Regions from separate parts of the Homo sapiens genome. Here region 2 is linked to region 1. The links come from fine-mapping of genetic effects on gene expression. Tissue or cell type: whole blood. Region 1 holds a variant in brackets; the other region holds the start of a gene. All regions are shown on one strand. Distances are from middle to middle.

Region 1 (8,262 bases):
AGATGGAGAGTGCTTTGAAATTAAATTATGGAAAATTGGTAAGCAACCAATACAGATACAGTAAGCCCAGCTTTTCTGGAATGCCCAAGATAGATAGATGCTAATATAGACAACATGTTTTGAACAGCACTAAGGTACAGAAACAACAGACTTTGGGAAGATGAGAGAAAATTTCTGAAATACTGAAGCCTTAAGACATGTGGCTGGACCTGGAAGGATGGGGACCAAGAGAACAGCAAGCAGTCCCCACAAGGGAAAAATGAATATGCTGAACTCCAGCAAGTTAAGAGCCCCACGTTCCTCCTTGGAAACACCTGGAGCTCATAAGCACACAGCATTAGCACATCTGCTGCTGGGACCTGGTGCAGGAAGTCATGAAACGGATGGGATAACAGCTCCCTTATGAGGCAGACATGCTACAGTGCAGAAGGAAAGAGTGTAAGTATCAGTAGAGCCCTCATTTAATTTTAGCTGGAAAATTTATAACCAACTCTAGGATGGCTTTAACTTCAGGTGTTATGAAAGTTCCAGGATAACATGTGTCTGCTTTGCAGCTGCTAAGCTGCATTCACTGAAGCTAGGAGAGATGTTTCCCTTGATAGTAAAACACATAAGGGCAACTTCAAGTTAACCCATTCCAGCTATTTTGGTTGTCAATTTCCAGCTGCGTTAACAACAAGTGGGAATAAGAAGAATCATCAGGCCAGGTGCAGTGGCTCACACCTCCCAGCACTTTGGGGGGCCAAGGTGGGCAGATAGCGAGGTCAAGAGATCGAGACCATCCTGGCCAACATGGTGAAACACTGTCTCTACTAAAAATACAAACATTAGCCGGGTGTGGTGGTGGGTGCCTGTAGGCTCAGCTACTCTGGAGGCTGAGGCAGAAGAATCACTTGAACCCGAGAGGCGGAGGTTGCAGTGAGCCAAGATTGCGCCACTGCACTCCAGCTGGGCAATAGAGTGAGACTCCGTCTCAAAAAAAAAAAAAAAGAAGAAGAAGAAGAAACAGCAGACACTTTGCCATAAGGCTATTTGGGAACAGCCCTGGCTGGTCTGGCAGTTTAATCCAGCTATTAGCCTAGATGACCACACAGAGCACACAGATGGCTAGGGAAGGCCACCATGATGACCATGAACAGGAAAGACAGAGGTATGTGCAATCTCCTCTCCCACGCCATACCTGTTTGCTGAACTGGCCTGCCCCTGCCACGATGAGCACAATGATGTTGCCAACAGCCACGGTCAGCAGCCATCCTGCCTGAAGCACCGACTTCATGTTGGAAGGAGCCTGAGGAAGCAAAGCAAAGTGAGTCCTGCTCCAGGTCTCACCCTCCGAGCAGGAGAACACAGCTCACCGATGGGCGTTTCGTGAAGCAGATCACCCTAACAATGCACACGAAAAGTCAGGTGGCCTCAATGTAAAAAGGATCATCACTTAAGTAACAAGACACCCAAACATGCACAGACGAGTAGACAAGAATTCCTGTGTTTCACGCTCCACATCCTTGCAAAGCTGTCCCCTTAGTTAAATGGACACATCTACGGAGGAGCTGATCCTATTTCTACAGGAGAGCTTCCAAGCAAAGCCACCCAGCCTGGCATAGTCTTCCCCTCAAATGCAGGCTGCCCTGGGCTGCAAGCTTGCCCTTCTGTGGCTTTCCTGCCACATCTCCAAAATCTCTTCAAACACCTGTCACCTGTATTACAGTTATCTCCTTTATTAGACTGTGAGGTTATCACAGAAAGTGATTTTCTGACTCATCTTGGCCTCTTTACTATAAAAATTGATGGTACTAGGCATTGTGGGCTATAATGCCTATAACTATAGCTCTGACAACACAGTTCAATAATTAAGCTCTAATTTGGGTATCAATAAAACCTAGCTCATTAGTCTAACACACTTAAAAGCAATAATTCTTTTAAACTTTTTCTTTTTCTTCTTTTTTTTTTTTTTTTGAGATGGTGTCTTGCTCTGTTGCGCATGCTGGAGTGCAGTGGTGTGATCACAGCTCACTGCTGCCTCGGACTCCTGGGTTTAAGCAATCCTCCTGCCTCAGCCTCCCAAGTAGCTGGGACCACAAGCGTGCTCTACCATGCTCAGCTAATGTGTTTTTTTAATTTTTTTTAATTTTTAAAGCTAGACCTTATTTGTTATGTTTACTGGGAGCTATAAAGAGACCTCAACCAAACCTATCATGAGGACATAGACCTGTAATTGAGCTGTTTTATGAATGGTTGGTTACATTTGGTTGTTTCAGAAAGGAGAATCTGCTGACCTTCATCACTCTGGTAGCAGTCAGTAATAAATACTGGGCGCTAAATGTCTAGGGTATGACTGTGGGGCTATGGACACATGTGAACACGTGCTCTTGCAAAGTTCAAGACAGTAATAATTCTTATTCACTAAGGACAACACTTGGTGACCTCAGAGACCTTGCTGTAGGGAAGATACCATAATGCTTTCTAGACTTTTTAAAAAATATAGTTATCCCAGATTTAAATTAAGTCCCATCAGCATTTTCTGCAGGCAGGGGTATTGCAGATGGGTGGTAAATACAACAAACAAGAAACCTGAGAATATGAGAATTCCAATCCCGTGACAGAGAAGACCACTTCGCCACAGGTGAGAAGAAAATACTGCGGGATTTGCAGAGCCATGTTAACTGTGTTGGCTGAAATATCTTCAAACACCTTCACTTCAGGGCAGCTGTCATTCTGCAGCAGTAAGGCAAAAGCAGAAGAAGTTGAGATAGCTTCTAAAATAAAAACTGTTCGAACAGGTAAATTGAGTTTGACCTTCTAGGATTACATCATATGATTTGTCAAGTACGTACACATTTTAAACATAAGGCAACACTGCATTTTACACTTGCAATGGGATTTGAAGACACGTTCAGGAGGATTTTTCTTTTAGATAAGAGAGTAGGTTGGAAGTCATTTTAAAACACTGCCCTCTCTTTGAACTATGAGTTCTTTAAGTCCATGTTAATAGTCTAGAAGGAGGCATCAGATATTGGTTAACATAAATTATTATCCAGGGGAAGTCAGTCTGTTTAGATTCTAATGATTAAGTCATCAATAAGTTAAAGAATTAGCCAAGCAAATTAATTCTAAGCCCATTTAAAATACAGATCCTAATATCACTCTAGTTAAATCATATTATGTCCTAAGTGTTTGTGAGTCTTCATATCAATCGAGTATGAGCAGATCTTCTGATACAATGAAACGAGTTACTAACCTTCCTTTGGACTATATAGGTATAAGCACTACCAAATTCAAGGTAGAAAGTATTGAAATTAGGTTGACATTGTGGCGGAATCTCTGTTGAGCTTATTGTGAAGCCTTTTCTATCAAAATAAAGAATAATATTGGTTAACATTCTTGGCATTAAAAATTTCAATGCATTTTTTAAAGAAAAATTCTTGAACCTTTGAGTGAAGCATTCAGTCTCGGTACTTACATGCCAGAAGGAAAAAACTGGTATGTGCTGGCATTGTAGCTGCTGATGTTTGCATAAACTTTCCCACTCATTGTGATGGTGATGAGCTCGTTAAAAGTATTTACAAATCTGAAACAGAAAACCATCTGTCTTGTAACTGAACTAGAGAATAATATATTCTAGGTCACAGTACATGCACCTGAAGTTGGGCAATACTCCCTATTTTGAAGGAGTTTAAGATGTTTTCAGAATATTTCTAGAGAATAAAGACAAAAAGTGAAAAACTCTGGGTTTATCCCTGCTCACCCACTCATGAGAACACACCTAAAAGAATGTATTTAACAGTGTTTATATGTGCTGGTTACTGCTCTAAGTACTTTGTAAATCTAACCTAGTTCAATACATTAGGAATATTAAGCAGGGACTGAAGTAGATACTGAGCCTCTTCCCTTCAAGAAGGTAGCCGTGCCTTTGTGTTCCTTGTTTCAGAAACTTTATTTATTTATTTAGAGATGGAGTCTCGCTCTGTCACCCAGGCTGGAGTGCAGTGGTGCAATCTCGGCTCACTGCAACCTCTGCCTCCCAGGTTCAAGCGATTTTCCTGCCTCAGCCTCCCGCGTAGTTGGGACTACAGGCATGCACCACCACACCCGGCTCATTTTTGTATTTTTAGTAGAGGTGGGGTTTCGCCATGTTGGCCAGGCTGGTCTTGAACTCATGACCTCAGACGATCTGCCCACCTCGGCCTCCCAAAGTGCTGGGATTGCAGGTGGGAGCCACTGCGCCTGGCCAGAAACTTTAG[C/T]GCTCAAGTAGTGAAAGACCAAAACCAGATGCTGCCCAGTTCCTAAAAGATAGACCCCAGTTCCTAAACGACACCCCCTTCTTTAGGGGGTTGAGGAGGAAAGCCCACCTACTTCCTACCTCTAGGAGCCTCAGGTGGGGAAGGGCACCCGGGACTGGAGAGGAAGAAGTGGGCCAGCCCAGTAACAAGAGACGGTTTTTTCAGTCTTTTTTAGAGATGAGGTCTTGCTCTGTTGCCCAGGCTAGAGTGCAGTGATACAATCACAGTTCAATGCAGCCTCGAACTGTGGGCCTCAAGTGATCCTCCCACCTTAGCTTCCTGAGTAGCTGGGACTACAGGTGTGTGCCACAATGCCTGGCTAATTTTTATTTTTATTTTTGTAGAGACAAGGGTCTGGCTGTGTTGCCCAGGCTGGTCTCAAACTCCTGGCCTCAAGAGATCCTCCCTCCACAGCCTCCCAAAGCACTGGGATTATGGGTATGAGTCATTATACCAGGCTGAGAGACAGCTTTAAGGAATCCCCTTCAGAGGGTGGAGGCCTGTGTGGTCCTGGAGTGACAGTGGTCAGCATCCTGCTGGAATACAGCTTTGAATGGATACCCAATAAGACCGACTTCCAGGTCCAAGGCTTCCTATCTCTACAAAGTCCCGTGAGGCTACGCTTCATATGGAAGCAGGTGAATTGTTTGCCTTCATAGGACCATACAGATGGTGAACAGCACGGATGGCTGATTACAGACCCCTTTCATAGCTGTTCCAGGCTATAGACGACCCTGAAACTCTCATACAACCCTAGTGACCAGGACGGTGTTGCTCAAAATAAGACCAGTTGACTTTTCCTACCAAACACATGAGTGAAGGCCTAGAGCAGATTATCCAGGGTAGAGAACAATAAGTCTTACTAGTGTACACCTCAGCAGTGTAAAGAATAATTTAACCTTTCCATGGCTAAAATGTGGGGCCAAGTTTCATCAGTTTTGTGGCAACAAATAATACTGATCAAATTTTAGGTGCTGGGAGAAAATGGCTATGAATTAAACTCAGGTCCTGAAGTCCCGAGGCCTTCTACTTGGTGTCATTTGATAGCTGATTAATATGGAAAATGGAACCTGAGACAGATCCACACGGGCCTTAGCTAGAATTCCCACTGCTCTAGACTGTAAGAGCTGCTTTTATCAAAGATGAAGATCACCCACACAAAAGAGAGCATGTGGGCAGAGTGAAGCCGAGGAAGCAGAACGTTGGGCCTGAGGCCTGGCTTTATAACTTATCAGCCATCAGACTCTGAATGAAACCATCCCTAAGGCTAGAGGATTCTGAGCTGCCTGGCCTATGTCTTAGGGCTGGTGCGACAAGAAATGAAAACACAGTCCGAGTAACTTAATGATGGGGATGGGGTCTGGGAAATGCGTCCGGAGGCGATTCAGTGGTGATGGGAACCTCACAGCGGGCACTTACCCACACCTAGACGGTGCCACCCACCACACACCCAGGCTGCATGGGTGTGGCCTTTGGCTCCGAGGCTACAAACCTGTGCAACGTTGGCTGCACTGAATACTGGAGGCAACTGTGACACAATGGTAAGGATTTGCACATCTAAACATGTCTAAATACTCCCATTCGTTCCTCCCTGGCCCCCTGGCAGCCATTCATCTGCTTTCTGTCTCCATGGCTCTGCCTGCCACTTGATGTCAATGGAATCATTCTATGCAGGTCTCTGTGACCAGCTTCATCCCTCTTAGCATATTGTCTTTCACATTCGTTCATATCGTGGCATGTATCCGTACTCCATTCCTTTTTTGTTTTTTTTTGAGATGGATTCTCACCCTGTTGCCCAGGCTGGAGTGCAGTGGTGCGATCTCGGCTCACTGCAACCTCCGCCTCCCAGGTTCAAGTGATTCTCCTGCCTCAGACTCCCAAATAGCTGGGACTACAGGCCCCCGCCACCGCACCTGGCTAATTTTTTGTATTTTTAGTAGAGAGGGGATGTGTTAGCCAGCATGGTCTCAATCTCCTGACCTCATGACCTGCCCACCTCGGCCTCCCAAAAAGTGTTGGGATTACAGGCGTGAGCCATCACACCCGGCCACTTCATTCTTTTTTATGACTAACATTCCATCATATGGATATACCACCTTTTATCAGCTGATGGACATTGGATTTATTTGTACGCTTTCTCTATTGTGAATAATGCTGCAATGAACATGCATGCACAAGTTTTTGTGTGGACATGTTTTCATCTCTTCTGGGTGACACCTCACATGTCACATTTGGCAGGCTTCCAAATCAACCACCTGAGGAAGGTCTCACAATACATGGCGTATAGCCTGTCTGTGAGTAAAGAGTGACTCCCTCCAATCTTATTGTGTTGATATCTGATTAATACGTAGCCCACTAACACTGAAAAGGATGCAGATTTGCTTCTGAATCATGACGTTTTACTGACTTTCTTGTGGTAAAACATTTTAGCCCATATGTTGTCATCTGTAGCCAGTGATCATAACCTCTGTATTATAACCTCCAATGAAAATGGAAAGCTTGAGCGGGGCACGGTGGCTCACGCTTGTAATCCCAGCACTTTGGGAGGCCGAGGTGGGCAGATCATCTGAGGTCGGAAGTTTGAGACCAGCCTGACCAACATGGAGAAATCCCGTCTCTACTAAAAATACAAAATTAGCTGGACATGGTGGTGCATGCCTATAATCTCAGCTACTCGGGAGGCTGAGGCAGGAGAATCGCTTGAACCCAGGAGGTGGAGGTTGCGGTGAGCCGAGATCGCACCATTGTACTCCAGCCTAGGCAACAAGAGCGAAACTCCATCTCAAAAAGAAAAAAAAAGAAAATGGAAAGCTCTAATATGAGGAGTCCCCCTCTCTTCTCCTAAACTTTTTTTTTTTTTTTTTTTTTTTTTTTTTTTTTTTAAGACAAGGCCTCACTCTGTCACCCAGGCTGGAGTGCAGTGGTGCAATCATGGCTCACTGCAGCCTTGAACTCCTGGGCTCAAACAATCCTCTCACCTCAGCCTCCTAAGTAGCTAGGACTGCAGGAGTGCATCACCATGCCTGGCTAATTTTTAAATTCTTATATTTGCAGAGAGGGAGTTTTGCTTTATTGCCCAGGTTGGTCTTGAACTCCTGGCCTCAAGTAATTCTCCTGCCTCCACCTCCCAAAGTGCTGGGATTACAGCCATGAGCCACTAAACCCGGTCTTCCTAAACTTTCTTATAAGAGTCTTCCAACTTGCAGTAGACTCTGGGACATGCCCTACTTTGCTGATGTCTCTTTCCAGGTTGATCCTCACATTTGGCTTCCAATAAATCAAATTATTTCTGCCTCAACACCCGTAATTTTGGTCAACATGGTTATATACCCAGGAGTGAAACTGCTGAGTTTTGTAGTAAAACTCTATGTTTAACATTTCAAAGAACTGTTTTTCAAAGTGGCTGTACCATTTTAGATTTACCACCAGCAATGAATAAGGGTACTAATTTTTATTTATTTGTTTGTTTGTTTGAAGACGGAGTCTCACTTTGTCACCCAGGCTGCAGTGCAGTGGCACCAACATGGCTTATTGCAGCCTCGACCTCCCGGGGCTCAGGTGATCCTCCCACCTCAGCTTCCCGAGTAGCTGGGACACACCACCATGCCTGGCTAATTTTTGTCTTTTTTTGTAGGGACAGGGTTTTGCCATATTGCTCAGGCTGGTCTTGAAATCCTGGGTTCAAGCACTCAGCCCACCTTGACCTCTCAAAGTGCTGGGATTATAGGCATGAGCCACCATGCCCAGCCAAGGGGTCCAGTTTACCCGCATCCTTAACAACACTTGTTATTGTCTACGTTTTTTTTTTTTTTTTTTTTTTTTTTTGAGACGGAGTTTCAATCTTGTTGCCCAGGCTGGAGAGCCATGGCACAGTCTCAGCTCACTGCAACCTCCGCCTCCCGGGTTCAAGCGATTCTCCTGCCTCAGCCTCCCAAGTAGCTGGGATTACAGGCACCTGCCACCATGCCCAGCTAATTTTTGT
Region 2 (8,000 bases), 110 kb before region 1:
TATATTTCTTACATGGGTCACGGTTCAGAAAAGTTGAAAAGTGACTGATAAAATTTTGTAACAGAAATGTGCAAACCAAAATCTCATTTTTAAATCACATTTCTGCAAACTCAAAGCCGATTGGTGTTCCTGCCTCCATCTGAAGCTTTTCTTTTAATCTCAATTGAGTGAAACAACAAATGCTCAATGAAAGACGGAGTACTTATAGCCACAGATCAGCCTGATTTCTTTATGTTTATTCGTCACTATATTCATTCAGTTTCTGATGTCTATTTTTTTCCCCTACTGAAATATAAAACTGGGGTTTAAGAGAAAAAAAGCAAAGGCTTCAGCAACTTTCATTAAACATTTACTTTAAATGGTAACCTCATTCAGATCTACCACTTTCAACCCCTCCCCTAGGACCTGGCACATGAAAGTTCAATAAGGGTTGCTGATTGAATAAATTAAAAAATCAGCCTCCTATTTCTAATTTCTTTAGCCAATCTAACTAGCAATGAGATAAACTTTAATGTTTGCAAAAGTAACCATAAAACAGTAACACTGCATGATGAGTGGGAGTAGGAGGAGTAGTAGTTTCCAATCACAAATTTGCCACATAATATATGATCTCACCTTGGTCAGTTAAGTCTTCCTTGGTCTCCACATCTACAAAATGGTATAATATCATCTACATCTCAAACGGTACCGGTAAGAATCAAGAGGCATAAAAATGATTTGCAAAACATTGAAAAATGGTGTTTATACTAACATGGTTGTTATTTTTCAAGCATCCTTGCCTAGGCCACCTGAATTCACTCTGCTTTATTTTTTTATTTTATTTTTTTTTTTGAGACGGAGTCTGCCTCTGTCGCCCAGGCTGGGGTGCAACGGCACAATCTCAGCTCAACGCAACCTCCGCCTCCCGGGTTCAAGTGATTCTCCTGCCTCAGCCTCCCGAGTAGCTGGGATTACAGGCGTGTGCCACCACGCCCAGCTAATTTTTTGGATTTTTAGTAGAAACAGGGTTTCACCATGTTAGCCAGGATGGTCTCGATCTCCTGACCTCATGATCCGCCCACTTCGGCCTCTCAAACTGCTGAGATTACAGACTCTGCTGTCTTTCTAAGCCAACTCCTTATAAGCCCTGGTCAGGAGACAAGAAAAAGGGAGGGCTATGAGGCCTATCAGAGCAAGCCATAGAAGAGATACGGACTTCTCTCCTCCCATTTAGCAGACAACAGTCGAAAGCAGGTGTGTTTTTAATTGAATCTTCAGCAACAACTCTTAGGGAAGCCTCCCAGGGCAGTAGCAACTGCTAATTTGAAGTAGAAAATAAATGTGCTGTTGTTTTTCTTTTGTGGGGTGGGGGAGGAGAAAAGAATGTTCTTCCCCAAATGATACACTGTTACCATACAGTCTGTAGATGTACTTAGGTACAGGAATGACTGGCAGAAGCCAACTTACCTACCTCTAAAACTGTAAAACTGTAACAGCTGAAAATCTGATCATCTTTTCCACTGAGAAACACTTAAGATCTTTCATACTGAGAAAACAAAATAAAAACAGTTCCCATGTAACACAACCTAACAGATACATAATAGTTGAGAGGCAAAGTTATTAAGGAAATGTATCTTCTTTTCCCAAGGTTTAAGAATTCTGACCCACTCAAAAAAAAAAGTGAGGATAAAAATGAAAAGGTGAGATACTAGATATCACCTGGTAACCATCTGATACTGACTTCACGGCACCAGCCAAAGGGGCTTTAGTACCTTTTCAAACTGATTCGCTATCCACAAAGGCCAATTAACCTAGTAAGTGAGGCATTTGTGCTAGATTCCAACCTGATGAACACGGTATAAATATCAACCTAAAGGAAATATTGATAAAACTTTTTTTTTAAATCATTACAAGAGTCCTTTCTTGCTCGACTAGTAAGAAATTACTTTTTTCACCCAGTTCACTCTGACCTACACACCTCTAAATTCATACCAAAGCGGCTTTAGAAAATACCAAGAAACCACATCTGATTGTTACCCAGCAGTCAGCAGAAGTTTAGGTTTTGAATGCATGCTAAATTCAACGCTCCTTAAATGAGAGTCGACAAAAGAATATTCTTCAAGCATCTTCCCAGTCACTCTTAAGATAATAACTTAACTGTTGCTGCTTAAATGTATATTTATTTACTGCTTAAACATATATACACACATATATATACTGCTTATATATACACACACACACACACACACACATATACACACACACACACTTGGACTAAAATTCTAGCTGCCATTAAAGTGGTAACTTTGAGTTCCTATTTTTCCAGAATTCAAACCTGAACAGTGAAATCCAGTTTTCTTTTTACGGTTTCAAAAAAAGAAGGGAGAGGGATGATCTCACTGGAAGAGGCGAGCAGACCCCAGAGGCAGTCCCAGGTCTGGGCTCTGTGCTTCTCAGCCCTCAAGACACAGGGAAGGAGCCTGTTGGTACCTGTAAATCAACCAGTAATCTACTTGGATGCTTTTGGTTTTCTTCAAACACTTAACGTTCACTCAGCTAAACTGGCAGAGCAAACTTTCATGACATATCCTAACTGCATCCTAAGATTTCCATCCTAAGCATTTTGCCACCATTTCTGCGCCTACAAAGTTTACAAGAGTTAGCCAAGGACGGTAGCTTTGTTTTTCAAAGGGCTAAAAGCAACGACAACGAAAACAACAACAACAAAAAACCTTTAACTTATACATGTAAATTTGAAATTCAACTCCTCTCCCACTCCCCAAAAAGTCACTGGTAGGCCAAGGTGTCACCAAGTACCGAAAGAGAGGTTTACTGGGCGAAGAATTCCTGTAAATGCAACCAAGTCTCAAAGTGAAAGTCCAGGGTCCCGGGGCCGGGCCCGGGACCCTGGTGCGCGGCTGTCCGAGGGATTCCTCCTTCCAGAAGGTTTGCAACTCGCACTTTCCCCCGGTCCGCAGGTGCACGGGGGCTCCGGGCAAAGCCACTGCAAGTGGAACTCGCGGTTACCTTCCTCCACTCCACCCTGCCTACTCCGCTCGGGCCCGGACGAGTCCAGGCGCGCTCCCCGTCCCCGCCCTGCCCAGGTCTCCCGCCCGCCTGCCCGGGGGTGGGGGACGAGCCTGGGGGACGCGTCCTGGGGCCCTCCGCCAACCCGGCCACCACGCAGGGCCCCGGGACCCGGCGGGGGCCTCCAAGGGCATCACTCCACCTCACTTCTCCCGGGGACAGGGCCACCCAGGGCCTGCAGCTCCGGAAGAGTGTTGGGGCGAGGGGAGCGCGGAGGACTAGGCGCCCGCACCCCCACATCCGGACCCAGGCCGCGGTTCCTACGGCTCCTGCACGCACACGCCGGAGACCTCGGCCGCCGGAGCCGGCAGGGACGCCCAGGGACTCGGACTCGGACCCCCGGCCGAGCCGGGCGCGCGGGGAGCCAGGCTCCGGCGCGACCCCGGCCGGCTGAGCGTAGGGGGACGCCGTGTGGATACCGCCAAGTTGCTGCTTCCGCCCCGGTCGCGCATCCCGGCCCCGCGGCCCGCGCCCGCCTACCTGCATGCCGGGCAGGCCCGACTGCACCGGGGAGTGAGCCATGGCGCTCAGGACGGCCACTTCCTGGGACGGGACGGCCGGGCCGCGACGATCCGCGCGGGGCGGCGAGGCCCGCGGGCCGCGCGCAGCCCTCGGGCGGCGGGGCCGGCCGGAGCCCGAGGCCACCCCAGCCCTGGCGGGTCCCGGCCGGGCGGCGGGGGCTCAGCGGCGGGTGGCGGGCCGCGTCTCCATGCACGGCGCCAGGGAGGAGCTGCTGGGGGCGCAGGGCCTCGCGCGCACTGCCGCCGCCGCCGCTGCTGCCGCTACTGCTGGGCTGGAGCCGGGCGGCCTGGGCCCGCGCGCGCTGGCCGCTGGAGCCGGAGTGGGCGCGCACAGCCCGCCGAGCCCGCGAGCGCCGAGCGCGTCCCGCCCCGGCCCGGCCCCCGCGCCCGCCCCCACGGCCCGGCCGGGGACCCCGCCCCGCGCTTCCGGGAGGGGGAGGGGAGAGGCCGGTGGCCGCGCGGGAGCCCTAGGCCGCAGCCGCCGCCTGTCGGCCCGGCCCGGGTCCCAGCTGCTCCTGCGGCGCTCCCACGCCCCCGCGGGCGGGCGGCGGGGCCGGGAGGGGGCCTCGGCTGGGGCGGGCGCCGGGAGGGACCGAGTCGGGGCCGGAGGCTGGCCGCGTGCCCACCGGGCCGGCGCCGGGGCGAGCCTGGGCCGCGGCCCCCTCTTCCCGCCAGCCAGCCCACCCCGCCCCGGCGGCCTCTGGGAAAACGCGTCCCGGGCGAGCCCCTGAGGGCAGGATCGGAGTCGGGGGCACCTGGGGAAGGAGAGCGCCCCGTGGGGCCTCGGCCGGTGGCCTGTGCCAAAAGGCCGGGCAGAGCTGCTTCGGTGTCTGGGTGAAGTTTCCAGCCAACCCAAGAAGGAAACCGAAAGGGAAGAGGCCGAGAGAGAGGTTAATTCCTAGTGCTTTGGTTACCGAAAACAGCCCGGCTGGGACTGCTGGGCTGGGAACTTAGCTAAGCAGTGCGGAGGCTGAACCCCACCATCTCTGGGATCCGCAGCAAATCAGAAGCCCCCACCCACGATAAGGGGAAAATGGGGCGCAGAGGGCAGGGAGGAAGGGAAGAGAATGGAAGGAAAGCGCGTCTGGACTTTGAACTGCAGCCCTCTCCCTCTTTCCCTTGCCTCGGAAGCTCCAGGCCCACTCAGCACCAGTTCTGTCTCCTCTTTTCAGCCGCCTTCTCTCTAGCTACTGAGGGGAAAAGTCAGGATGAAGCGGGTCCCTCGGCCTCCAGAAGGTGTTTTATTACAGTCGCAAACAGGTAGAGCGGCAGCCACCCCAGTGATGACTCCCTGCTCCTTAGATTGTAGGGACGCTGGCACCTCACTCATGCTCCTAAGTGGCCATTTTGCGCCCTGGCTGGGCGAGTTAGGCAGACAAAATGAGCCCCCAAAAGTTTAAAGGCCTCCACCAAAGGAGTATTTCTTTTCTGAGGTGTCATTGTATTCCATCCACGAACTTCAGTTCCCCCGGGTGCTCTGGATCTGACATGGAGTAGGATGCTAACATCTAATCCCTTCTTTCCCTTTGGAAAGATGCATGTTTTTTCTCGGAGTCCTAGGGAATACCTTAGAATACTTTCATGGTTGTCATTGGTACACCCATCCCTTGAGGAGCCCTGCCACCCGTAAGTAGGACTGCAAGGAAATACAAAATTAAGAGAAGTATGAACCCTGATACCCAGGAACTTAAAATCAGGTGTATAAATTTTGTACACCTAAAAAATATGGTACCTAAAGAGGCGAACAGCAAAACAAGCAAGAATGTGAATCTTTAAAATGTTTCTATTCTTCAGCGCAGCCCAGGAATTCTACCTAAAGTAACATATCCTAAGGCAACAACCAAGAAGTGTGGAAGAATGCATGTAAGAAGACACAGTGATGTTTAGAATCCTGGGGAAACGGAACAGCCAAAAAGTCTCACAGAGGTTAAGTAAATAATAGCATTTTCATACGAGTACTATGTAGTCATTTAAAATTATGTCTTTCAGTACCTAGTAATGGGGAAAATGTATTCATTATATATTATTAAAGAAAATACAGGGTACAAAACACTGTATATAGACTGATCTCAAATGACTATATATATATTAATATATATGGCCTACAGACACACAGTCATGTATTGCTTAACAATGGGTATACATTCTGAGAAATGTGTTCTTAGTTGATTTTGTCACGTGAGCATCATAGAGTGTACTTCCAGAAACCTAGATGGCATAGCCTACTACACACCTAGGCTATATGGTATGACGTATTGCACCTGGACCACAAACCTGAACAGCATGTGACTGAACTCAATACTGGAGGCAACTATAACACAATGGTAAATATTTGTGGATCTAAACATGTCTAAGCATAGAAAAGGGACAGTAAAAATATTCTTCTAGGGTCAGCAGAGCCAGGGCAATAACCTGGCACCAAGATAAAGAGCAAGAAACTAGATGAATGGATGGAAATGTCTGGATGCTGATCTGAGACATTACCATGGTAAATGCTCAGAAATCACTTTGCAGTGGGCTAATTGCCAGCAAATAAGTCACAGCAGATGGGGGACAAAGGCCCATAGTACCCTGGGTATAAAAAAATAACCGGAATCCTAGTTTGTGTCCTGAGGCTAGTGAGGCTCAAAACAGGGAGATTCCGGCAGGATGTAACTTCTCTGGACACAGTGACTTGCATCCATTAGCTGGTCTGTTGCCCCGAACCCTGTTTATCTTCTCTCCACACTGACCATTGTTTCATCCTTTGACAATGTTCATACTGTTGAGCACCATTCTTATCGAAAGAAGGGAAGGAAGCAACATGGGAGTTACTGGTTCTCCTTGGCCCTATGCAGGTAGTACCGAGTATTCCCCATGGCAGAAGTAGGTCTCCACCTTATTTGTTTTTGCACAACAGAGATGATGCACAGGGCCTGAGCCCGGGATCAGATCCGGTGCAATTGCCTATTATGTTCATTCATTCACACCTTTTTTGAATACCAACTATTAATACATGTCAGATACCCAGTTCAGTACTGGGCATATAAACATTAGATCCTCAGGTGCCTCTTAACCCATCCTAGGGACCTGGTCTCCCAGAATCCTAACTTTGGATGAATACAATACCATAATTGATTAAACTTAGAGTGGCAATAGCTATCATTTCCACCAAGGAAAGAAAAGGATCATCCTCTCACCCTCTTCCTCTTGTCACTTTCCCTCCACCCCCAATGTATGATTACAACAGGTTATACACTACCGTAAGTCCAGAAGGAGATTATGAGAGTCTCCATAGAGATGATGCATTTTATGGTCTCCATGGAGATACTAACCCATTGAGTTATTTACTTTATCCATTGAATTATTTTTCTTCCCTGGTCCTCTTTGTCTTTTGTGTTCACTTAAGGACATCAGTCTGGCAATGAATTATGATCTGAAATATATTCTGGACCACAAAGAATATTTCCATACCCCTATATGGAGCCCCTCCAAATATAAAGCCCCTATGTATTTGCTGCCCCTAAGCTAGTTTGTACGCACTCTCAGCAGAGCTCAGAGAGGAACAGAAAACAAGAATTCCACAATCAATCCCTTCACTTTTCTTTCTAAGTTGAAAAGATAAACACCCCCAAATGCTGCTTTATAAAGAACAGCTAGACAAGTAGAGCATTAGCAATTTAAATTCAGAGATTAAAGAAAGGGACTTACATGGTGAACTTTAAAGGGAGAAATAGGAGTAGCTTGGATAAGTAACTAACAGAAGGCTTAGACAAATTTCTACACATGTTCAGTAGGTGAAGACAAATTATCAAGATCAGTTTAAAGAAGAATGTCTAGTCATTGTTGGATGACACAATAGCAAGAAAAGGTATGCCAAAGCCCCAGAAAAATATCCCAGCTACATTGAGGAATGGTACCAATAAGGTTTCATTCTGTGCGTGGAGAGCTCAGAGGGCAGGCTCTTGCAGGGATATCACCCTAAGTAGGTTTTCAGTTGCACCCTGCCTTAGTTTGCTAGGGCTGCCGTAACAAAGAACCACCAACTGGATGGCCAAAACGACAGAAATTTATTTCCTCACCATTCTGGAGGCTGGAAGTCCAAGATGAAGGTGTCAGCAAGATTGGTTTCTTCCGAGGCCTCTCTCGGGCTTGTAGCGGCCAGCTTCTCCCTCTGTGTTCTCGTGGTCTTCACTGTGTGTTCCTGTGTCCTAATTTCCTGTTTTTATTATTTATTTATTTATTTATTTATTTATTTATTTATTTATTTTGAGATGGAGTCTCGCTCTGTTGCCCAGGTTGGAGTGCAGTGGTGAGATCTCGGCTCCCTGCAACCGCTGTCTCCCAGGTTCAAGCATTTTTCTTGCCTCAGCCTCCCTGGTAGCTGGGACTACAGGCGAGCGCCACCACACCCGGCTAATTTTTGTATTTTTA

What was found. PIP is the estimated chance that this variant, and not a neighbour inherited with it, causes the effect.
Region 2: it holds the start of STK24, and the variant in region 1 is fine-mapped to the expression of STK24 in whole blood (TOPMed, PIP above 0.99).

What each region holds. Positions count from the first base shown.
Region 1 is chr13:98,685,010-98,693,271 of GRCh38, forward strand. SLC15A1 (solute carrier family 15 member 1) reads right to left here. Exons shown (of 23, transcript NM_005073.4): 19 at 3,461-3,568; 20 at 3,239-3,347; 21 at 2,572-2,715; 22 at 1,181-1,288. Among named protein-coding and RNA genes, the nearest start is that of SLC15A1, 64 kb to the right of the region's middle. The variant C/T (reference allele first, on the strand shown) is at 4,242.
Region 2 is chr13:98,573,199-98,581,198 of GRCh38, forward strand. It overlaps STK24 (serine/threonine kinase 24), which reads right to left and starts at 3,909. Exons shown (of 11, transcript NM_001032296.4): 1 at 3,547-3,909. The coding sequence starts at 3,588. It overlaps STK24-AS1 (STK24 antisense RNA 1), which reads left to right and starts at 4,057. Exons shown (of 1, transcript NR_046542.1): 1 at 4,057-5,643. RefSeq lists silencers at 1,419-1,478, 2,943-3,812, 3,863-4,172, 4,193-4,342 and an enhancer at 4,433-4,622.